Linked DNA regions of Homo sapiens. The protein of the gene in region 6 purifies or fractionates together with the protein of the main gene of each other region. This does not show direct contact. Each region holds a gene or a part of one and is shown on either strand. Other genes may lie near its edges.

What was found.
Region 1: the proteins of DCPS (region 6) and CSTF3 purify together in Homo sapiens (affinity purification with mass spectrometry, with the first as the bait; one large-scale study listed by BioGRID). This does not show direct contact.
Region 2: the proteins of DCPS (region 6) and SRSF9 purify together in Homo sapiens (affinity purification with mass spectrometry, with the first as the bait; one large-scale study listed by BioGRID). This does not show direct contact.
Region 3: the proteins of DCPS (region 6) and SMCHD1 purify together in Homo sapiens (affinity purification with mass spectrometry, with the first as the bait; one large-scale study listed by BioGRID). This does not show direct contact.
Region 4: the proteins of DCPS (region 6) and NIPBL purify together in Homo sapiens (affinity purification with mass spectrometry, with the first as the bait; one large-scale study listed by BioGRID). This does not show direct contact.
Region 5: the proteins of DCPS (region 6) and PARP14 purify together in Homo sapiens (affinity purification with mass spectrometry, with the first as the bait; one large-scale study listed by BioGRID). This does not show direct contact.
Region 7: the proteins of DCPS (region 6) and PUM3 purify together in Homo sapiens (affinity purification with mass spectrometry, with the first as the bait; one large-scale study listed by BioGRID). This does not show direct contact.

The regions. Positions count from the first base shown.
Region 1 is NC_000011.10:33,098,981-33,102,480, forward strand, and holds part of CSTF3 (cleavage stimulation factor subunit 3), read right to left. Parts: intron 3,360-3,500; coding exon 3,197-3,359; intron 738-3,196; coding exon 628-737; intron 171-627; coding exon 54-170; intron 1-53. UniProt on the Homo sapiens protein: One of the multiple factors required for polyadenylation and 3'-end cleavage of mammalian pre-mRNAs.
Region 2 is NC_000012.12:120,463,961-120,466,748, forward strand, and holds part of SRSF9 (serine/arginine-rich splicing factor 9), read right to left. Parts: intron 1,828-2,788; coding exon 1,667-1,827; intron 163-1,666; coding exon 1-162. UniProt on the Homo sapiens protein: Plays a role in constitutive splicing and can modulate the selection of alternative splice sites. Represses the splicing of MAPT/Tau exon 10.
Region 3 is NC_000018.10:2,697,226-2,700,725, reverse strand, and holds part of SMCHD1 (structural maintenance of chromosomes flexible hinge domain-containing protein 1), read right to left. Parts: intron 2,896-3,500; coding exon 2,685-2,895; intron 188-2,684; coding exon 67-187; intron 1-66. UniProt on the Homo sapiens protein: Non-canonical member of the structural maintenance of chromosomes (SMC) protein family that plays a key role in epigenetic silencing by regulating chromatin architecture.
Region 4 is NC_000005.10:36,988,269-36,991,768, reverse strand, and holds part of NIPBL (nipped-B-like protein), read right to left. Parts: intron 1-3,500. UniProt on the Homo sapiens protein: Plays an important role in the loading of the cohesin complex on to DNA. Forms a heterodimeric complex (also known as cohesin loading complex) with MAU2/SCC4 which mediates the loading of the cohesin complex onto chromatin.
Region 5 is NC_000003.12:122,679,629-122,683,638, reverse strand, and holds the start of PARP14 (protein mono-ADP-ribosyltransferase PARP14), read right to left. Parts: upstream 2,801-4,010; 5' UTR 2,756-2,800; coding exon 2,569-2,755; intron 1-2,568. UniProt on the Homo sapiens protein: ADP-ribosyltransferase that mediates mono-ADP-ribosylation of glutamate residues on target proteins. In contrast to PARP1 and PARP2, it is not able to mediate poly-ADP-ribosylation.
Region 6 is NC_000011.10:126,331,560-126,335,059, forward strand, and holds part of DCPS (m7GpppX diphosphatase), read left to right. Parts: intron 1-3,500. UniProt on the Homo sapiens protein: Decapping scavenger enzyme that catalyzes the cleavage of a residual cap structure following the degradation of mRNAs by the 3'->5' exosome-mediated mRNA decay pathway.
Region 7 is NC_000009.12:2,837,596-2,841,095, reverse strand, and holds part of PUM3 (pumilio homolog 3), read left to right. Parts: intron 1-2,578; 5' UTR 2,579-2,588; coding exon 2,589-2,670; intron 2,671-3,500. UniProt on the Homo sapiens protein: Inhibits the poly(ADP-ribosyl)ation activity of PARP1 and the degradation of PARP1 by CASP3 following genotoxic stress. Binds to double-stranded RNA or DNA without sequence specificity. Involved in development of the eye and of primordial germ cells.

The DNA.
Region 1 (3,500 bases), about 93 Mb from region 6:
AGTCCTGCACTAAAAAATTGAATTATAAGAAGGCTCTAAACATTTTTACTTACCTCTTCATAATCTGCATATGCAAAATAAAGAAGCATATTCTTCTTCAATAAAGTGCTTATGGCTCTTTCATATATATTAGCAGCTTCATCACTAAATAATTTGGCATTATTCATATCCTGGTAGAAAAAAAAGAAAGCTCATCTTCAATAATTTTAATATAGTTGTGAGAGAATAAAATTAATAAAGTTACATCTACTTTATTTTATTTATGTGTCTAAGAAAGCATACATGTATGTACACACATATATATGTATCCACACACACACATACATAAACACATATGCATTTCTGGATTCTAAAAAAATTCCAAAAACTCCTTTCATTATTTTAACTTACAAAATAACCATGCAAGTACTCTAAATGATTCATTACTTTGATACGTTAAAAAACTGCCAGTTTATTTTAATTCTAAGGAGGTCTAATTATATGAGTGTCACTAAGATTCATATGAACGTAAACTTAAATTTTCAATACTTATGCTTTATTACCAAAATTCAGTTATATTTTTCAGTAAATAATTGCTATATCAAAACCACAAAAATATCAAAGTGGGGATAGGGAAGGAACACTTACTCCCTTTTCTGCGAGCAGTTTACTTGACTGCTCAAGATACTGGGCAGCTTCATACCAAATATCAGGGTGATGGCCCAGCACAAGCAGGCACTGTTCATAAGCAAACATAACTAAGGGAAGAAATTAACAAACAATATTCAATTAAAATAATTATTATTTGTAAAACTATCAATGTAAATATCATAACCAAATTAGGCTCCTCAAAAATTAATGATAATTAGAAATAAAAAGCTTTAGTGATTTCTGGCACCATCATCCATCCAAGTTCCCTCCATCTATCCATCACTTATTAATTTTTTTTATTTTTGGAAGCAGGGTCTCTGTCACGTAGGCTGGAGTGCAGTGGCACAAATATGGTTCACTGCAGCCTCGACCTCCTGGGCTCAAGTGGTTTTCCTGCCTCAGCCTCCCAAGTAGCTGAGACCAGGCGTGTGCCACCACATCTGGCTTATTTTTAAAAATCTTGTGGCCAGGTGCGGTGGCTCACATCTGTAATCCCAGCACTCTGGGAGGCCAAGGCAGGCGGATCATAAGGTCAGGAGATCGAGACCATCCTGGCTAACATGGTGAAACCCTGTCTCTACTGAAATACAAAAAATTAGCCAGGCATGGTGGTGGGTGCCTGTAGCCCCAGCTACTCTGGAGGCTGAGGCAGGAGAATGGCATGAACCCGGGAGGCACAGCTTGCAGTGAGTGGAGATCACGCCACTGCACTCCAGCCTGGGCAACAGAGCAAGACTCCATCTCAAAAAAAAAAAAAAAAATCTTGTTTAGAGACGGGGTTTCACCATGTTGCCAAGGCTTGTCTTGAACCCCTGGGCTCAAGCAATCCTCCTGCCTCAGCCTCCCAAAGTGCTGGGATTACAGATGTGAGCCACTGCACCCAGCCTAAGTTAATACTTATTGAGCACCAACTATATGCCAGGGAATGTGGAAGGCACGGTGAATATACCAGTGAGTAAGACTTCCTATATTCAAGAAGTCTGCAGTATACGGGGAGGACAGACAGAAAGCAAAGATCAAAAGGATTATGATGATGAAAGTACAGTATACTCTGAAAACTTACAGCAGCAGGACTTAACATAGTTTAGGGACTCAAGAAAGGCTTCACTAAGGAACTGACATCTAGCACAACACCTGAAGAAGGGATGAAGCTGGTCAGAGGCAAATAAGTGAAGTGGAGTAAGGATGGGGTAGATACAAAAATGGAGTGGGCAAAGGAAACAATATTTGCAAAGACCTGCAAGTAAGATAGCAAGGCAACAGCAAGGCAAGATTGAGGAATTCAATAAAGCTCCAAATTAAGAGTCTGGCACTGACAGAGTAGTTTGTATCAGACCAACCCTCAGCAAGTAAAAATTATAAATAAACAAAACACAAATACAAAAGCAACTATCTAAATGTACTGGAAATGACCAAAAGAAGCAGAAATCAGGAGACTGAGCCCTTAAAAAGACAGAACAACACTAGGTGAGATCCATATTTAAATATGGCTTTTCCCTTCAAACGCATGCCCATGTTGTGCACTTCTGGGATAGCTAGAACTCAAGTCAAATGCTGCAGTCTTACTGTCTTGAAGTAACATGGAGTTCTGGCCTATGAGAGCAGCTGGAAATTGAGGAGACATCCCCAAAAGGAGAAAGCCAGATCCCGAAAATCTGGGCATAAATGTTCTCAAATCCTCAGCTGATCCCTAAAATGTACATACACAGGGAAGAATACAAACAGACCAGCAGAAAACAAAGCTGGAAGGCAGAAAGAGTTAAATAGATACCTCAGCAACTAAGGGAGATGAAGTTTAGAATTTGAGTCCGATCCAATTAGATGGTTGGGGTAAACACCTTAGACTTTTCATTGTCTTAGGAGTAAAGACTATGTCCCAAGAATAAGGTATTTAATCTGAGATTAATGGTAAAACTAAAACAGACCTGTCTTCATAGTATAAAACTAAGCCTCCACAAAGTCCAAGTAATCTGACAGTAGTATTTAACTTCCTGCTAAAATAAAACATTCTTCAGAGGAAGATGACAGAATCTACAGTCTTTACAATGTTTCATTTGTACATTTGTACAATATCTAAAAGAAAAAATTTAAACAGGAAATAGGGAAATGTAAACCACAGTCAAGAGAAAAAGCAATCAAAGAAAATAAACTCCATGGTGGTTGAAGGCCCAGATGTTGGAATTGGCAGATGAGGACTTTATAACTACTATTATAAATATGTTCTAAGAAACAAAGAAAAAGATGGTAATGAACACACAAGGAATCTCAACTAAGAAATGGACACCATAAAAAAGAAATATAAAAAATAAAAAATTTCTAAAATGGAAATTTATAGAATTGAAAAATATAGTATCTGAAATAAAGCGTTCACTGGATGGGCTTAATTGCAGACTGCATATGATGAAAACAAAGGTTCAGTGAATATGGAGATAGATCTATAGGAATTATTGAATCTGAAGAACAAAAGAAAAAAAGATTAGGGGTAAGAAAATTTTAGTAACCTATGGGGATACCAAGTGGCCTAACATACATGTAACTGAAGTCCCATGAGGGTTAATCATGTTACCTCTTTTTGTTATAAGGGTCTGATCCTCTGTACGAAGAGGGTTGCTCTTTTCCCACTGTATATATTTCTTCCACATATCTACTTGTTGAGCTTCTTGAGGAGTATTCTGAGGAGGCACCGAGGGAGCATTACGGTCCAAGCCTTTCATTACTGTCTCATATTCCTAGACAACAAGGATTTAGAATTCTTTGGTGAGCCAGGAACAACTGAGATATATGGCGGATGGGGTAGATCAGTTTGGAAGACTGTTCAAGATGCCTACTTTTTCCAAATACCACTTTGTTAATATAATCTAAAAACTATT
Region 2 (2,788 bases), on a different chromosome or scaffold from region 6:
GGAATTTGGTGTCATCCAGTTTACGCAGGGCATATTCCATGTCTTCTTTTCTGAGATACTCGACCATCCCCACTCCATCCTTCTGCACATCAGCATAACAGACATCCCCAGCTTCTCGCATGTGATCCTTCAGGTCCTGCCAGCTGCCTGACGGAGGAAGTCCTAGGCATGGAGAACATAAGAAAGCCCACATCCTTCAGCTATGTTAACTGCCCTGTTAAGAGCCAGCAATACCTATGGTCCTTTCTCCATGATCACTTAAATCCTGAGGGTCCCCAAATCATAAACCTTGATAAGGGACATGAAATCAGAAAAGAGCACTGAAGTATGTGTGGTAAATGAACCACCTTGAGAAGCTGGTTTTAAGTTCATCTTCCAGAGACCAGGCCTTTTCAACAGAGCAAGAAGTCCATCCCATTACAGGTTTAGTATCTTTGAGAATTCATAGCCTCTTTCTTTGTCCTTTAAAATCAATGCCAAACTCCTAATACTTTGAGTTCCAATTTTTTCCATTATGAAATTTAACAGTACCAATTATTTATTGCTTGACAGGGTTTCACAGGACATGGGAATTTTGAAACCAGACATGAAATAACCAAAGAGTAGCTGAAGGTAACAACACAACAACAAAAAATCTAAAGTTTGTTTTCTTGTAGGTATGAATGACAAACTATACAGAGTACCTCTTAAAAGATCACCAACATTCTTCAATACAGTGGGGGGGAAGGTAAGACTCAGATGCTAAAACTAGTCGGGAGTCATACAACCCTACCTGATGTCATGAAAGGGAAATGTGCTCCTGCTCTCAAAGGCTGTGTTTACCGCTCACAGCTCAGGACTGCAGCCATTTCCTAATAGTTTTCTAAGCAGGATTTCAGAGCAGCATGGAGAGAAAAAAAGATAATGTATGACATCCTGAAGGAGGGAATAGAGTTCTGGGGTTAAAAAATTACAAAGGGACACAAGATAGGCAGATACTGAGAGTATCACTCTTAAGCACATGGGAGTATGCTGTGATTGTGTGACATTCACATCTTAAAAAGGTGCCAGGCTCCTCGATTTATTTCATTCCACCAGGGCCCTAAAACTCCCATGCAATATGCAGAAGGCCCCAGGTCTTTCCAGTGTGTTAATATTTTGAAGATAGATAAACCTCCCAGTTTAGCATTTCATCACTTATAAACACTAGACAGAAATAGTCTATACTTTCCAATAAAATCTCTAAGACTCTTAAGTTACGGGGTTTTAAAAAATATTTAATTCTAAAACCACCACAAAATCTGATCTTCTTCAGGATCCAAGGCTGGGTAAGTTGTTCAAATCTGGCTCCTTGAATGCCTTTCTACCATGTCTGATGCCAAGTATATTCCAAAAGAAGCATCTTTAGAATTGTAGCTCAAGTTTTCCCATCATCTTTCCTTCTCACCACTAGAAAACTCCTTTACAAGAAATATGGTTATGTTCTTCCAAGGCTGCACTCCCAGCGCAATTTCATTTGCAGGATACTTTCCTCATTGGCAATCCAGGGCAAGGCTTCACACAGGCTATTGAAAAGAAAGCCCCCGTGTCCCATGCACTGAAGAATAACAGCTATCATTTCTTGGAAGACAGACTCTGTGTTAAGTATTTTACATGTATCATCTCATTCTGTTTGAAAGGAACATACCTGAAACAAGAACTCGGAAATCAGATCTTCTTGTAGGAGGCCCATTCCTCCCACCACGGGGCCACCCACCCCGACCTCCATAAGTCCTGGGGAACTCCACACGAAGCCGACACTGGCCATAATCATAACCATTTCTTCCATAAATAGCATCCTCTGCATCTCTAAAAAAAACAACAACAACAAAAAAAACGTTTGGAGTTAGTGCTGTTCAGGAGGCCAAGTGACTTTCCAAGTGAGGGGCATGAGTAGTAAGCATAAAAGGGAAACCTAGAGTGAAGAAAAAAACACACAAATCAGGATCCTGAAGCACTTCTGCTTTGGTTTGGAGACGTTTCATGATACTGGAATTAACCTTTACAGCTGTCACACGCAGTTTTAGAGGTATGAAATTATAATGAATGAGCAAACAGATTACTCATAAGAGGGCTAATTCAGAGAAAAAAAAGAATCAACTGCTGACAGATTATTGATTTTGCCAATAAACCATCAGTGTTTTTCTAATCTTCGTGAGCATTTTCTCGAAAAGCACACCACACACTAACCCCTTAATATTTTTCTACAAAGCCTAGTGCCATAAAGTCTATGGAAATAAAAAGTAGGCGGTTAGCCAGGCATGGTGTTGCACGCCTGTAGTCCCAGCTACTTGAGAGGCTGAGATGGGAGTGCAGAGCCAAGATCACACTACTGTACTCCAGCCTGGGTGACAGAGACCCTGTCCCAAAAAACAGGAAAAAAAAAGTAGCCAGTTAGATAGGAGAGTATTTGAGGGTAAATAAAGTAGCTGGGCATGATGTTTGAGCCCAGGTCAGGCCAGCCTGGGTAATATAGTGAGACCCGGTCTTTTAAAAAAATAAATAAATAAGGCTCAAAGGACAAAAGAAAAATGCAAATGAGTGTTTTGTGATGAATGTGGAACTTTTTTTTTTTTTGAAACGGGGTCTTGCTCTGTCACCAAGGCTGAGTGCAGTGGCTGGAGCATAACTCACAGCAGCTTCTAACTCTTGGGCGCAAGCAATCCTCCCACCTCAGCCTCCTGAATAGCTAGGGCCACAGGCGTGTACCACTGCACCCAGCTAATTTTTGGATTTTTTGTAGAGACAGGTCTCCCTCTGCTGGCCAGCC
Region 3 (3,500 bases), on a different chromosome or scaffold from region 6:
AACAAAATGTTAGTTAGTAAAAGAATTAAGTTGTAAAAACATAATTTCAGCAAAAATCAAACTTACTCTTCAACTGATGTATATGGTATTAATCGTCCATTCCAAAAACATTCAAAAATAGGCCTTTTCCCTCTAGCTGCTTTCTCAAGTATGAAACAATCATCTTCATCATCTTCATCTTTTAATTCTAGATCAAAAGGGCAAATGGAACAAAATGTTTATTGCTAAAATGTGAGAAATAATGAAACAAACACATAAATGTTTCAAATTGCATTCTATAAAACCTAAAGGTAGTTTTATACTGTTTGCCCACAAAAAGGTAGGTTTACAAAGTGGTTCCACATTACGAATGCTGTCTGTCATTTAGAAGTCAATAATTACTTATATATGAACCAATGTACTAGCTGCTGGGCCTGTCATCTTTAAAACCTATTCATGAGGCTAAAAGAGTCTTACATCCAAAAAGATTATCCCCTATAACAAAATCCCTCCTTCCTACAAATATAGGAGCTTAAATCCCGTATCTAAAACAGTTTCACAATTTTATCAGAACTAGTATGTTCACATGAAAGTCATCTGAGAAATCTATGACATCTAATAGCAGCGAGTTTACCTAGTTTGAACAAATTAGTGAATGATGCTAAAATTAAGTTTACTTTTTAGAAATTATTTTCAGATTCAAGTAAGCATGAAAAATGTACACAGAACTGTAAGACATGTTACTATGCATCAAGAGCATTAATTTGCACAATTGTCTATAATCTTATGTTTATTAGCAACACACTCTCGTGTATCCAGATAAATTAGGATTAAACAATGTGATCCTGACATATTAACACCTCAGCTACCCTGGAATTAGTTTACCCACCTAAAACAAAACCTTCTCCCTAAAAGCCCTCACAAGAAGTCCCTTATATAAAAGCTGCTTTCAATCAAACAAAATCACTTTGCTCTTAGAGGAGAATCCCTCTGATTGATCACTCAACTTACTTGCTCTTCTTTTTAAGGCAGCATTTGAAAAAAATTATATCTTTTTGTCTATTAGCACACAAAAATTGGAAACAGCAAATTTAAGAGGTCAGAGATGGCCAGGCACAGGGGCTTACGCCTGTAATCCTAGCACTTTGGGAAGCTGAGGTGGGAGGATTACCTGAGCTCAGAAGTTTGAGACTACCCTTGGCAACATGACAAAACCTTGTCTCTAATAAAATACAAAAAATTAGCCTGGCATGGTGGTGGGCACCTGTAGTCCCAGTTACTCAGGAGGCTGATCCATGAGAATTGCTTGAACCTGGGAGGCAGAGACTGCAGTGAGCCTACATTGTGTCACTGCACTCCAGCGTGTGTGGCAACGCAAGACTTTTGTCTCCAAAAAATAAAAAACAAAACCAAAAAGGCCAGTGGAGCCACTGAGTAACAATATGTACTGGGCAGGAGCACTTAATAAATAGTGTTGAGCACTATTCTGAGAAGTTGCCCCAGTTTTTAAATTTGATCTTCACAACACCCCTATGAGGTGTGAACTACCCATTTCCCAGGTAAGGAAACTAAGGCAGGGAGTAGTTTGTCCAACAGAAAGTGGCAAAGATGGGATTCGAATCAGGATCTCTGGTTGCAGGCCCTAGAAAACCAAGAATGTACTAAGGAAGTATTCTGAATGAAAAAGTTTAATATTGTTAACCTATAAATTCAATGCAATCCCAATAATCTCACTAGAATTACTTCAAGTGAATGTACAAAGCTGATTCCAAAATTATCTAGAAGAGCAAAAGTATTCTCAAAAAGGAACAATAGTGAAAATGTTTTTTCCCAAAGATACCAAATTACAAGATAAAGCTACAAGACAGTATCATTACTCATATTAAAAAAAAATAAAATAGTACTTTATAGTAAAGAATCTAGACCTATGTACTTATGGGAACTTTGTATTATACAAGTTCTAACTCTTGGGTAAATTATAACATTCAATAACTGGTGCTAAGAAACTGAATATGAATACCACATAGAAAATAATTGTTAAATCCCTATCTCTCTACTGGGGGGGGAAAAAAAGGTGGGGGCCAGGTGTGGTGGCTCACACCTGTAATCCTAGTACTTTGGGAGGCCAAGGCAGGAGGATTGTTTCAGGCCAGGATCTTAAGACCAGCCTGGGCAACACGGCAAGACCCCATCACTCAAAAATTTAAATAAATAAATAAAACCCCACCTTGCTCTACATACAAAAAAGAAAAACACAGATGCATTGACCATAAAATGACAACAAAAACAAAAAAGCTACAGATTTATATAATTTTGAGATGTAAAAAGCCTTTCTACAGTAAGACAAAATCAGAAAGCATAAAGAAAAAGTTAGTAAATATGACTGCATAAAGTGTAAAACTGCAACAAGGATAAAGAGAAGACAAGGGAACATATAAAGGATTAATACGCATACATATCTAAAAGTTTGGTTTCGTAACAGAACTAAAAGAAGAGTTCATTAAAGATTTATTCATCTAGAAATGAATGTACACAAAAATCAGGAATTACAAAAATTACAAATACCTAACAATCTAAGACTTGCATAAGAAAAAATTTAATATTTATCTAACCTGAATAACCCAACCGATAATCATTTAGAAAAACAAATCACTGTCCTAAATTACAACTTCATATTTTATAACTAAGATAACAGATTAACATACTTGATGGAAAGCATGGATCATCAGGGTAAGTTTCTCTATCATATAAGAATGGATGATAACGGATAATCCCTTCCACTACACCATCTCCTTCAACATGAGCTTTGAATTCAAAACTATCAGCTGCTGTGTTTACATACAACGTCTGCATGTCGTCTTGTATTTCCCTTAGGTTGACAATCTTAGGTACCTTCCCTTTTTCAAACATAGAAATCTAAAATAAAAAGGAAACAAAAATAATTAAATTCTATGGTAACTTTACTTTTGTTCTCAGCTATGATTCAACAACAGAATAAGTAAAAATTATGTTTATTTGTACAAGTAACAATCTGGCTTAATGAAATACATATATTTACATATGAGTTAAACAGCTTTAAGTAGCATCTCAATAAGGAACATACTACTAAAAAATATAAAGTAAGCAAAGAAACAGCAAATCAGAGCTGAAGGACAGAAAAGTCATGAGTACATTTAATTCGAGGTTTCTTGCTAGAGGTAGGAAGTGGGACAACATCGTATGTGAAATTCTAACGTGTGGGTTAGAGGATTGAGAATCCAATACTCAAATGCTCTGTGCTGCTAAACCTTGTCACCACGATATAACTTCTACAAACAAAAGGAAAGCTACATTATCTCCCTTTTCCTCCATGCTTCAAGAGATGATTGATGTTCAGTAACAATGCATAGCTCCACAGAAGAGAGACAAAAAAAGATAAACCAAGCCTACAGTAAATAAAGGTTTGAGAAAAATACATCTAGGAATAATCTCTTTAGTTGGATATCAAACAATGAAAGTAGTTTGGTAAAAAACAAGGAGAG
Region 4 (3,500 bases), on a different chromosome or scaffold from region 6:
TCCTAAAAAAAAAAAAAAAAAAACTTGGGCAGGCATAATGGAATAGTTCAGTGACAATTCTTCCACTAACCTACCCATATAACACAGAAGCACCAAATGGATCTTCAACTTCAATTAGAGGTAAGTGGGGGCAAAAAAAAATTTTCAATACTGCATGTAAATGACAATTTACTACTCATTATGTAAGTAACAACTTACTACTCATTACAGAAAAGTAGGGGGCAGGGATCAAATGATTCTTTCCTTGATATGTATACACGGTGAGAAAAATAAATTGTGGCAGTAATATCTTTAAATCTACACTGAATATAAAGTACAGATACATAAAAAGATTTATTTTAAAAAATTACTTTCTTCATTAGATAAATTCAATTCAATTAGAAATTGAATGACTGTACTTTCCTTTATATAAAAAAATCAGACATACTTTAGCTTTTACTATAACAACATTCATTTTTGTCTTTATAACTGTATAAAGTAGGAGGGAAATTGGTTTCTTTATTTTAAAAGCGAATGAACCAAGCTTTGAAAGGTTAAGGCTTATTCAGGGTTTTGATATTAGTTCTCTTTGTACTATAATTTGTAATAAGTTTAAAAGAGAATTTTTAAAAATTGATACATTACAGCCAGAAAACGCTAATATTTTTATAGGCAAGACAGAGAGATCCATATTAAAAAACCCATTTTATTGGTGGTGTAATACTAGTAGGTATTCATACTCTTAATTTCACATCAGGCCCTTGTAAAGAAGGGTTTCATTAAATTTTTTTTTTTTAGAATATAAAAGGGAATTTAGCATGTCAAAGATTATTTCTTCATAAATAGGCACAGGGTCTTACAGAATTAATATTTGCTAGCTCCTTAGCTGTTAAATCATATACCTATTTCTACAGACACAAGAACCCTATAGAAACTATGTCTTTGGGCTGGCTTAAGAGACAGAATGGAAAGGAGAGAGAATACCTCCAGCAAACTTTAGTTTTTATAAAAAGGTTTCTACTTAATGCATTTCTTTTAAGCAATATTTGTATGAACAATCTATTAAGCATACTTTGGAAAATTTCTACAAATGGAAATCATGAGTACAAATTTTCAAAATACTGCTCTAAAGTCACAAGAGCTAGATACAGATTATGCCAACTTCTGTAATAAACTTTCTCCAAACATTTCCTAAAGATATCACTGATATCAATCTTTACAGAAACTGAAAATTTGAGTTTTTAAGAAAGGTATTTTATAAAACTGTACAAATGAAACAAAATAAATTTCCACTGCATCATTAAATATTATTCAATATTACAATCTACTTTAAAGAAAACACCGAAAATTCCTCATTTAGGAATTAATAAACTGTGCTATAAATTCACTCTCAGAAACAATACTTTCAGACTTGCAGAAGCTGAGGATCCTAAACACCATCTAACTAGACTGGTTCAGTGCTAAGTAAAAGGCAACCAGCTGATGATAGTTATCAGCATTTAGTAGTGTAACTGTAACAGTAGATAACTGAAGTGCGATCACTGTCGCTAGTAAGGCCTGCAATCATTAGCTCATCAAGTGAGCAATATAGGCTAATCGCTATTGACTATTAAAGCTGCTAGATACATTCCCAGTGAAGACTACTTTCAGAAACTGCTTTACTCTTCAGTTTAAAGGATGATGTCAAATAACAAATAATACGGATATTTCTTGAAAGCACTGAGTCCACACAATGGAGAATGATATACTAGTTGGAAAGAAGTAGGGGGAGAGAGAAGAAAAAATGGTTTCCTTAGACATAAAGCAAAGATATTTTGAGACACTCTGGAGTTAAAAAAAAAAACAACAAAATCAAATATGTTTGTAATTACTGATAATAAGCTGTTAATAACACTGAAGGCATGTGTTAGTTGATGATTATGCCAATTTTTTTTTTTTTTTTTTTTTTTTGGAGACAGAGTCTCGCTCTGTCACCCAGGCTGGAGTGCAGTGGCACAATCTCAGCTCACTGTAATCTCCTCCTCCTGGGTTCAAGCGATTCTCCTGCTTCAGCCTCCTGAGTAGCTGGGGCTACCAAGTGCCTGCCACAGTGCCTAACTAATTTTTGTATTTTTAGTAGAGGTGGGGTTTCACCATGTTGGCCAGGCTGGTCTCTAACTCTTGACCTCAAATGATCCACCCACCTTGGCCTCCCAAAATGCTGGGAGATTATGCCAATCTTAAAGGATCTCATAACTTTATTATTTTAATTTAGAGACACTATACATTAGGGTAATAGTCTAATAAAATTTTTAACAACATATTTTTTGGCATGTAACATACTGATTGAAGTATATTTTAGTAGAAGATATTTGAAGAACTTAAAAAGAATTCTACAAACAGTTACACTGCCTGACTGCCCCCTCCACCCCTCCCAGGCAAGGAATAAACATGGTGATGGAAAGATAGGGAAGTTAACAATGCAGGATAAGAATGGGAATAATATTAATCCCAGTATAGATCAAAATAAGTGTGACAGAAAAATTAAACACATATTACTATAAGCAGGTTTTCTTTGGATCTTAACAAAAAAACTAGGTAGTTGACAGGGTGAAGAGTTATTAACAATGTTTAGGAAGCAGGATTTGAAAAATAAGTAGCTCTTGAGCTAGGGTGTATTGATGGGAACATAAAAGACGATTATCTAATTTTAATCTGTACACAAAAGCTTTTCCTGAAAATGGTGGCAACATCATCTCCATTCAATAGGCATTAAATATGATTTATTATGTATGAAGTATTTTGTTAGGTACTAGGGATACAGATATAGTGCCACAGAAATCAAATCAAATGTAACAATGCCACTTTACATTTATCATGCTCATACAAAAGACAAAAATAAGTAATCTAAATTAGGAGTAATAAATCTATACCTCTATCACACAATCAAAATTTATCAGCTTAAAATATATCCTAAAGAATGAATATTTTCTATATGAACATCAGGTAAAATATTTAAAAGATGGAAATTTATGGCTCTTCAATTTTGGCCCTAGGAACCAACCATACAAGTATCCCAGCAGTATTCAGACTAACTCCTTTACTCAGAAAATCATCAACACATCAAAATGTGATTTTCTGTGAATCTCCAAAGAAAATCCCAGTATATACTACAAAGGGTCAGTAATCTACAACTGTGCTTCATATACATGCAATTTTAAAAAATCCACAATTACCCAACTCTGCTATTTAAACTGAGTAGCAAAAATCTAAAACAAAACCAAAATTGGATCATTACTAAAAAAAAAAGATATGGATCCTAAGACATAAATAAATTAATCCAAAAGATAGCTACACGGCATCCTGAAATGCATCTAAGCACTGACATAGTATTTTTTGATGAAAAGGACTGTTACTGTAATTGCAGTTACATTAATATATGTGTATATATACACAAACATGCACATGTACACATACACACACATCACTCTAATAGGCAGACACCCAGATAGCTTACTTACATACTAACATGACCATATCAG
Region 5 (4,010 bases), on a different chromosome or scaffold from region 6:
TCTTCCACCTGCACCAACTTTAGATCATCAACATTTAATTTTATTTAAGGAGAAGATGGGTTCTTACCACAAGGAACCCGACAACAACCAGGAACCAAACTATGTTGGTAAAGTATGATAAAATAGACACATCTGAAACAGGGCTTAAAATGTTATGTCAATTTACACCAACTTTTCAGAAATCCAGTGAACTATATAAAAGTGAGATACAGCTTCCCATTTGTTTCTATTTGCTATACATGAATAAATACGGAGAAGTGCTGGTGGGCTCATTCTTGTTATCTGCCTATTACAGTTTATATGAATCAAATCAGGTTATGCTATGGGCCCGCACCTGTTGAGGCCACTTCCTGGCATGGAGGGTGGAGAGTGTCCTCTGCAGAAGAAGAATGCACTTCTGGGACTTCAAGCGTAGGTCATTCATTGTTAGCAAATTCCTGACCCTTGTTACTGAGAAAGTGGTTCCTCAAGTAGGAAACTGAAACTGACTAGGGATTTTCCACCCCCAAGAACTTAGACCATACTAGGTTTCGAGTTTGTTTTTGTTTGTTTGTTTCTTTTTGTTTGTTTGTTTTTGTTTTGTTTTAGATGGAGTCTTGCTCTGTTGCCAGGCTGGAGTGCAGTGGTGCGATCTCACCTCACTGCAACCTCTGCCTCCCTGGTTCAAGCAATTCCCCTGCCTCAGCCTCCTGAGTAGCTGGGACTATAGGCGCACACCACCACGCTCGGCTAATTTTTTTGTGTGTTTTAGTAGAGACAGGGTTTCACCATGTTGCTCAAGGATGGTCTCGATCTCCTCAACTCGTCATCCACCTGCCTCAGCCTCCCAAAGTGCTGGGATTAACAGGCGTGAGCCACCACGCCCGGCCGGTTTTGAGTTTTAATAAGTTTTGGGTCATCTGTGCTGGGGGGTAAGACAAGAGGGGCCACTGGAGCAGCCTGGGGGTGGAGGAAGAGGAGTAGTGGGCTGGGGCCGGTCAAGGATGGAAGCCCAGCAGGAAGACTGAAATCTTTTCTGCTTGGAGGGCTAGAATTGAGTTATTTTATCATCACAAAATTATACTTTGTGCTATTTGTATTTTCATGCTGTTTAAATTTGTATAATTATTTCTTTTTGTTCATTTGGGGTTAACATTAACTACGGAAATTCTGAAACTTGAACACATTAGGGTCACCTGGGCTGCCGGTTAAATACACGCTTCCCACCCACCCCACATTCACTGAACCTGAATCTCTAAAACAGAGCTGGGAAGGTGCCTGGTTAACCTGCTCTCCAGGTGATTCAGATGCAGGTCAGACCTACTTCTAAGGATAATGGAATCTAAAGGAGAAAGAAGCATCCTTAAGGGCCAGATCGATGGTGATGCTGACCTCTGAAGTCAAAGTGGGGAAAACCCTCAAGGAAAAGTGACACCCAAAAGAGAAATGACTAATATCACACAGTTGCCCTTCTGAGCACTCCTTGGTAAAATTAATCCTAGGAAAACATGGTATTTTGTTTTCATAAGGGCCATGAGCCAAGCATATCTCCTGTCCCCCTCCTTCCTTCCTTCTGTGCGCCATTCTTTTTCTGTTTCATTTTTCCTTTTTGGATCCCTGCTTGGGCACTCTAATTGCATGGCCTCAGCCTCAGCCTCCTTGCCTCTCCTCTGGCCCGAATGCTTCTCCAAATCTAGCGACATGAAAGCGGAATTAGGGGTTGACTAGATCCCGATAGGTCATCATCCATAAGATGCCAGTGGAAAAGGTGCCCATTCTGGGAGCTGCAGGTCACTGGCTTCCCATTGCAGACCAGGGAGGCCCTTGAGCCAGCAGATCACCTCTGGGCTCTTGGCCCACCAAGTAGTGGTGGGTCTGTAAGGAGGGAACTTTGCCGACTTTCCCTCCAAAGCTCAAATCTCCCAACCCACAATCACTTCAGAATATCATCCTTGCTCCCAATCTGAGGGCCACTAGAGACTCGGAGAAGAGGCCCCGGCAGGCCCTCGACAATGGGCACCTGTGGTCGATCGACAGCCCCTCCAATGTGGCCGCTGTGACGGCTCTACGTTGACATTCAGGCAGTGTGATTTTAGGTAGCGCCTCTGCCCCTCTCCCAAGTGACCCCGGGACCCCTGGGAATCTCCAAGAACCACAAGGAATCTCTGTGACTTGCCACGTTTCTTAATCAGTTTCCTTCCCCACACAAGAATAATAACAACAGGAAAAGACAGAAAAGGATGATAAGAGGATAGACTCACTTCCACAACAACAACAACAAACAATAACACCACCACAACAGGGAAAGACAGAAAACGATCGAGGGATAAAGAGTTACTTGCGCGGTTCCGCCGCCACCTCCGGGCCGCGCCATTAAGCGCCTGGAAGCGCAGGGCGCCGGGGAACCGCAGCGCCCCGGGTGCGCTCGGAATCCATTCTGCCGCCCCCGCCCCCGCCCCCGCCCCGGCCACCTCCGCTACAGCAGCCGCCGAAGTCGGGCGGGTCACCCTCCCGTGCGTGCCCTGCCGCCATTTCCCTGGAGGGAGGGCAGAGGTGCCCCCTCCTCACCCCACCCCTCGCGCCCCTCACCGTCCTCCGGGTAGAAGAACACCAGGAAGCGGGATGGGCTCCTGGGATCCTGGCGGACCTCACACTCGCCGCCTCCCGACCTCTTCGGGCTCTGGAAGTACATCTGCAACTTGGTGTTCAAGTTCTTCGGGGGGTCGGGGCCCCAGGAGCCCTCGACCAGCAGCGGGAAGGAGCCGGGCACAGCCATCCTCAGCTCCGCTCTCCGCCGGACTGCAGGGGCCGCGCCAACTCCGGGCCGCTAACTTTGACTCTTTCGCTTTCGTTTCCTGGAAAACTCCCAGGCCTTGGTTTCCTTTTGCCTTCAGCCTAACACAGCGGACCCAGGAATGGCAGAGTCATCCCCCGCCCACCTCCCCACCTTCGCATTCGGCCCACAGCCAAGGCCAAAGTAACCCTTTGGGGCTGGCCAGCGGCGCCCCGGGAAGGCGGCCTCAGTTCACCTGTGCTCCACGGGCTCCCACACCCCCTCCTAACTCCGGGCCCCCTACCTGCCGCTCGCCCCAACCGCAGATCAAGTCGGCAGCTTTGGGGCACCAGACCTTGCCCAAACGCAAAGATCATTTAATTTTTGCCGCAAGCCGACCCTTTACAAAAGAATAAAATGACTCACAAACTGTGGCCCCTTTAGAATGTTTGCTGCCTATTTGGGGACTTTTTCAGCAATCATTGTGATTATCAGAATTTTACGTTGCTTTCCCTGTTTTGCTTTCTGTTCCTTGATCTGTTAATACTACATGTCTAGAAATGTGGGGGAAACAATTACACTCACAGTTTTTTTTGTGGAATATTTACTAGGCGCCATGCACTCACTCACTGAACCCTCGCTGAGCTCACGGAGCTATGGTGAACACAGTGGGCAATAGGTGCTCTGGGAAAGAATATACTTGTGTTCCTGGAACAGATGAGGAGTGGCTCCTAGTCCAGCTGTGGCGGCTCAGGGAGGGTTTATAGGGCGGTGACATGTAACCTGATAACCCCAGGATATCAGGGGATAGCCTTGGAGGGTTAGGAAGTGGGGTTCCACGGTGTGATTCACATGTACAGGATCACTCCGGCTGCTGCGTGGTGGCTAGAGTGGAGGCAGAGAGATCAGCCAAGTGGCTACCATAGTGTCCTAAGTGAGAGACAAGGGTGGCTGAGACTGGGGTGCTGGCAGAGAAGAACTGAGAAAACGAGGATTCTCAATTAATAGTGAAAGCAGGACTTGCTGAAGAATGTGAGCCTTGAGAGAAGGAGAAGCTCAAGGATGACTCCATGGTCAGCCATGGATGGCCCGTGCAAGTGGCTGGATAATAGTGGCATCTGCAAGAGGGGAGGCCGAGTGATGGGAGAGAAGCTGGGGCTGTGTGTTTCCTTGACCCCAAATAAAGCAGTGTTGCAAGTCGAGGGGGGCGGGGGGATTATCATTCCAGTGCTACCGATACCTCAGGTCAGAGAAGTGT
Region 6 (3,500 bases):
TGCATGTCTCAGACGCAGAGCACTGCTCCCGTGGCTGGTGCCTCCTCTTACGAGTGTCTATTGGGGTCATATTAGGGGCCAGGCGCTGTGCTGGGCGAGGGGATGGGGGTACAGTAGAGAGCATGGCGGACAGAATCCCCACCTCGTGCAGCTTACATCCCATGCACAGTCACACGGTGTGTGACCATACACAGATATCTCAGGATCTATGTGCTCTGTGAGATAATGAGGGCTGCAGAGAGAAATAGACAGGATAAGTGGGACCAGAAGGCCTGGGGCGGGCAATTGCCATTTTATATCGCATGGCGAGAGAAGGCTTTGGGGGTGGGGGAACTGATGCTGGTCTTGGTCCCACCTGATGTGCTTGGGCATGCCATGGAGGCTCTCTGGGGACCTCAAAGCAATCCAGTCCTTTGGAAGAATGTGTGTCTGCTCTGCAGTAGCCTTGATCCAGCCTCGGGATGACTGTGCCATTGCTTTGGGTCCATGAATGGGTAAAAGGCTGATGTTGAGTGAGTCCCACCCTGTCCAGACTCTTATTCCTGGTTTCACCTGCGGCAAACCGGCCTGCAGGATCTCAGTCTCAGAGGAAAAACTCTTCCCTCACCGACTCCCCCTTGCATTCGTCCAAAAGAAGGCAGGACCCCATTGGCCCCGGGGATTTGGTGCAGGGACTCCATTCACAAGCTGGCAGTCGTCTGGCCAGGCCAGATGCAAGGCCATTTAGCTCCAAGATCCTGACTCCTCCCTGGGCCTAGGCCCAGCGCCAACTGGAGCCTCTGCCTGGAACTGGCCCCATGTGAGTACTCAGAGTTAAATATGACTGATGCTTATTGATGAGTCAGTTTCTTGCCCACTCACTGACTCTGACACTGTGCCTTGTCTTTATCACTCACCCTTGTTCTCTTCGAGCATTTCTCACTTTTCTCCCCAAGATTCAGGTCACTGTGGTGGAGGGTGTTGTGATGTGAGGAACTCACAGCCACTCCTCCCTGGCCCAGAAGAAGGGAGGGTACGCTGTGTGTGTGGGCACTGCAAGGTGAATTGTACTTGACAGGAGTAAGGAAAGGGAGGCTGACAGGGCCTGCAGGAATGAAGTTTCCTTGGGAGACCTGTGTGCCGCCAGCCCCCTTCCCCAGCCTGGTTCAGCCCTGGTCTCCCTGGGCAGCAGTTTGCGTGGGGTGCATCTGGCTCAAGCTGACTTGTTTGTTGTTGTTGTTGTTGTTTGTTTGTTTGTTTTTAAAGTCCCAGCACTTGTTCTGTTTTCCAAGTGAAAAGGAACTATATCTCCACCTTCTTAGAGTTTCTGCTGTTCAGGGTCCTAGGGAATCTCCTGGAACAGTTGTTCTGTTGTGCTGGTTGTGCAGACCTGAGATTCAAGTAAGGAAGCCCTGATGTGGTTGGTGTGAGTAGCTGGGATTACAGGTGCTTGCCACCATGCCTGGCTACTTTTTTGTATTTTTAGTAGAGATGGGGTTTTGCCATGTTGCTCAGGCTGGCCTCGAACTCCTGAGCTCAGGCAGTCCGCCTGTCTTGGCCTCCCAAAGTGCTAGGATTACAGGTGTGAGCCACTGTGCCTGGCCATGTATATTCCTTATTATATACCATTATGCAGTTCCATTCGGAGAAGAGCACAATGAAAACTCCACTACTCTTCCAACTCCTGACTGACGGGAGCCGTTCATGTATTCCTTCTTGGCTATTTCTAGTTTACAAGCACTCAGCTTAACTGGCAACACTCATTATGTTTACTGAGTACCTACTATGGACCTGGTCCTATGCCAGGCTTTGGAGAGTCACCAAGATGATGAAACCTAGACAGGATCTTCACAGTGTAACAGGGAAGATAGACTTGTAAACGGGCAATTGTGACAATGGGATAAGCACTCTGATGCCTAGACGAACTACCGTGGTGATGCAGAGGGACAGTGACCAGCGCAGACAGTTGGGACTTCACAGGGAGAGGATCCTCCCCTTGGGTCTTACAGGACAAATAGAAGTTTACCAGGTGCACAAGGGGAGGGAGGAGCAAGTCCAGAGGCACACAGAGCTGGAATCATCCGATGCTTTGGGGGAGCTGCAAGGAGTTTGGTGTGACTGGGGCTTGGGCTGCTGGAGGGTCAGAGGAGACAGCACTGAGATGGTAGGCAGGGGCCAGGCGGAGGCACGTGGACTTTGTCCAGGGGGCCAGGAGTTCCTGAACCTTGCTTACCATCAGGATTGCCTGGGGGTTTTCATAAATACCGAGCACAGAGCACTATTCCATATCTGCTGAATCTCACGCTTCAGGGAGTGGAGCTGGGAATTCTCTCTCTCTCTCTCTCTCTCTCTCTGATATTTCTGACAACCATCAGATGTGAGAACAGTTGCCATAGGCAGTGAGGGTGCCCTAAACGGTTTTAAGCATGTGGATGATATGGCCCGATTTGCAGAATTAATTGGTGGAGTGGGGGTGAGCATAGAACAGGAAGACTGGGAAAAACCAGTATGGGTCTGAACCAAGGTAGGGACAGTGGGGAAGGATTCTGGAGCAATTTAAGAGGTAGGTCTTCACAGGGCTGGATGGGGCTTAGCAACTGATTGACGTGCAGAGGGGAGGGAAGAGGTTGGGTGATGAGTGGATAGAAGGATAATTCATGACCCAGTATAGGGGACAGAAACAGAAGAGTGGGTTTGCATGGAAGACAGTGAGTTCAGTTTGGAATTCATTGAGCACTTACTATGTATAGTCCAAGAACTGCTCTAAGCATTTATGCGCATCACACCTCATTTATTTATTTATTTATTATTTATTTATTTTTGAGATGGAGTTTCACTCTTGTTGCCCAAGCTGGAGTGCAATGGTGTGATCTCGGCTCACTGCAACCTTCTCCTGCCAGGTTCAAGTGATTCTCCTGTCTCACCCTCCCAAGTAGCTGGGATTACAGGCGCCCGCCACTATGCTGGGCTAATTTTTGTATTTTTAGTAGAGACGGAGTTTCACCATGTTGGCCAGGCTGGTCTCAAACTCCTGACCTCAAGTGACCTGCCCACCTTGGCCTCCCAAAGTGCTGGGATTACAGGTGTGAGCCACCGCACCCAGCCTCACACCTCATTTATTCTTCACAGCAGCCCTTTTGGAGACAGGTCTCAAAGCCAGGCAGTCTGGTCCCAGTATCTGTGCCCTAAGCCAGAGATACTATTTGGCTCCTTAGATGTGAGGTACTTATAACTTCCCAGTAAAAACTGCAGTGGGATGTCTGGATCTGGAGCCTTTGAGATCATCTAGTTACAAATGTCTGTTTGTGAGTCATCCAGCTAGACTTCAACCTCAGCCTGGTGTTTGGATTCTCAGTCTGTCATCTAAGAGCAGCGTGACATTGTCCTTAATTTCGGAGCCCTGGTTTCCTTGTCTGAAAAATGTAACTAATGGCTCCTCCCTCCTGGGTGTTGTGGAAATTGAGAGAGGTGCCATATATCATGTGCCTGCTATTGTTTCCAGCACAGAATGATGCCAGGAT
Region 7 (3,500 bases), on a different chromosome or scaffold from region 6:
AGCAAGAGGAGATGCCTGGAGGAAAATATGTGGTGCTTGATTAGATTTGGAAACATCAGTATGAGCTTCAAGTTATTGTAATAGATATAAAAATAAATATAGGTATGTGCATATGCATAAGTTAATATACATATATGTGTTTCCTGAATCTGTCTGCCGAAAGGACATAGAAACAGGGACACCTCAGTGACAACAAGTGCGCCTAGCACTCAGATCTTGGTTTTTAAATACCATTCTCAATGAAAGGAACCAGGATTCCTTGGAGAAGTGGCTGATTTCAGGGCTAGGTTAAGGAAAATACAGAAGGAACCTGGAGCCAGTGCCAGGAAATAAGGATGTGCTTTAAAAGCAAAACAAAACAGTTGGGCCGCGTCAAAAGGACACAGAAGCAACCTGAGAAACTTCCCCCTGGCTGGAGCTAGCATTATTTGAGCAACAAAATAACAGTGGTATTGGATTATAACCAAGGAATGAAATAAATATCTGAGACTATATGATACAAGTAAATAGATGGAAAAGATGGGACAAGTCTTCCCTACAGAAAAGTTGAGAATAACAAAGGCAAAAGTAATAAGAGAAATAGAAGATCACCATTTAAATGCAGTAATTGCTGCAGGCGATATCCACCGACAAATGCTAAAGTTAGCAGGTAAAACTTAGGAGGACATAGGATGTCTACATATTCTCCAAACATCTTGTCTAAAATGTTTATTAATTGCTGTGGTAGTTTAACGTATGCCTGGATTCTTTAGTACCCCTCCTTCTGGGAAGTGGAGCTTAATTTTCCTCTGACTTTGGGCTGGACTTGGTGGTTTGGATCTAATAAAGATGGAAAGGTTAAAGTGGCAACTTCACAGTGGAGAAACCTGGAAAACACTACTTTGACCAAGTGAACACGGTTAACATAAACAGTAATAAGTCATGTTAATGTCATGTACCTCTTGATAGAGTACTACCAGAAGAAAGCTTGACCTCTGGTAGTCTTCCAAAAAATGTGTAGCCTTAGCCTAATCATGAGAAAACATCAGGCAAACCCCAAATGAGGAATATTCTACAAAATACAAAGGAGACTTGATGGCCAGATTCAGTGTATCCTGGTACAGAAAGAGGATATTAGTGGAAAAACTGGTAAACTCCAACTCAACTCTGTAGCTTAGTTAACTGTATGTTAACATTAGGGGAAGCTGGGGAAAGGGTATATGTGAACTGTGTATCTTTTCAACTCTTTTGTAAAGCTAAAATTATTTCAATATAAAAATTAGAACAAACATACAGAGAAAACATGTAAATGAATGGATTCTTAGAAAACTACAGGTGTAGAAGAGCTGAGAGATGCAGGTATGGTTATGATGGCCATAGCCAAGTAATAATGTGACCCTTCAGTTCTAAATGCCCTGAGGAAGCTGAGTAATTCAGGGACTGTCCATTTTTCAAAATCATTAGAAAAGTCTAGATTAGAACAGCACTTTCCAGAGTACTCCTTGGAAGTCTGCTGTTCCCTTATGATGTTCCAGGAAAAAGTGGTTCAACTGGAGTTGGAAAATCCTGCATCCTTTAGCCTTTGCTTGAGAATTGATTGTATATATTAGCAAATTAAAGAATCTGAAAAGCCTTTTCTTACGGGCTGATTCTTGTCATTTAACTTACTGTTTCCCAAATATATTTTATCCCAGAACCCTTCTTTTCTCTTATGGTAATATCCTGAGAAATTAGTTCTTGAATGGGCAATTCTAATCTAGAAATATCTGGTGTTGTCTAGGGATCCCTAACATCTGTTGTTTACAGCCAGCTTTCAAATGAGTTGATCGTCCAACTTTGGAAAGTGGAGAAATGAGCCAAATGGCTTTTTCTCTTGATCTGTTCTGCTGCTTTCAGGGACCTTGGGTAGGTGAGGGGTTATAACTTGTTTATCCTGTGCACCATGGTGTCTCAGTAGCCTATAAAGCGCCTATTAGACAGATTCCTTTCAATGAAATATTAACTATTTCAACATCTTATTTTGGAGTTCACTGCCAATTGCTTGGCTGCGTCTAAAACAATCACAGATTAAACACTGGATGCTAATCTTTGTTTTAGCTGTGTTGGATTGCATAGGAATCTTTCAGATAATCCTTTATTTTCTTATATTAAATGCATGTAGTGGTACATGCAGCCTATTGTTTGTTCCTGGCTTTTTAGGCTCCAAGAAATCAAGCGATAATTTTGTCAGTTATTCATCCCCTAGTCTTCCCAGGTTACAAAATGCAAACTCTGATGCTTATTATACTTAGTGTCAATAGTGGTCTATTTTTAGCCAGTACTATTGTGGAAGTGAAGTGATGCCTCCAGAGATATCAAACACTGGCCAGGGTGTGTGTTGTTCTTAGTTTTTTTATTGATACCTTGTTCATTTTCAGTTTTAAAATTTGAGTCAGTGATTGCAAAATTGCTGGATTTAAGTACTTGTCCATTCTATATCTGGCTGATTTGTATTGTATTTGTAGACTGAAGGACTAAATGTGGCAATGACTATGAAACAGCTCTTATTTGATGAAGAGAACTGCAGTGATTGTTTTTGGTTTTGGTTTTGGTTTTCCAGAGTTGCTACGATGGAAGTTAAAGGGAAAAAGCAATTCACAGGAAAGAGTACAAAGACAGCACAAGAAAAAAACAGATTTCATAAAAATAGTGGTAAGATATGCTTCCCATGTGGGTGTTTGGCTGTTATAATTGGGGGATGGGAGGGCATGTAGTAAATTTCAATCTGTATTCATTGGCTAGGATTAGGATTAAAATAGTAGGAAGAAGTATGTGTTATTGTGTATGAGTTAACATGTTGCTCATGACATTTAGACACTTAAGAAATTGCAAGAATGATTGAGGAATGCCTTATTCATGAAAGACTCCTTATCTCAGTTGTTGCTGCTGTTGCCTCATTTTATTCACACTAGTTCACCATACATTTTATTTTAACATTTGATAAATTAGGACTGTTTAATACATACTGCTCATAAGCCAAATACGTTTAGGTTCAGAATTTATAATGGTGATGTCTTTATTATTCCATCAGGTGTCAGTATTGTAAAACAGAAAAGTCAAGGGACTATACAAATGATTAATGTTTCCTTAATGTTAGCCATTACTGTTTGCATCTCATTTGTTAGGTACTAATTTGTAAGCCTTCTTGATCAAAAGTTTTTGATAAATAATTTTAATATAGGCTTTAAAATTTTCTTAAAACTAGAAAATTTTAAAATTAACATTTTAGATGTCCTTATGATATACTTTCCAAATTTCAAGAATGTTCAAGAAGTCATTTCTTAAGACTTCTTTTGTTATTGAACTCTTGAAAATTCTGTGTAGACCATCATTAAAGCAGAATACAAAGGTATATAAATAATAGCTCTGCTATATGCTTAAAACTAGAGAAACATACCAAACTGACACCAGTGTTTATCTTTAGTGGTAGAATCATGGGTAGCTTTTATTTTACATTTCTCTACTCTCTAGGTGGTTTTATA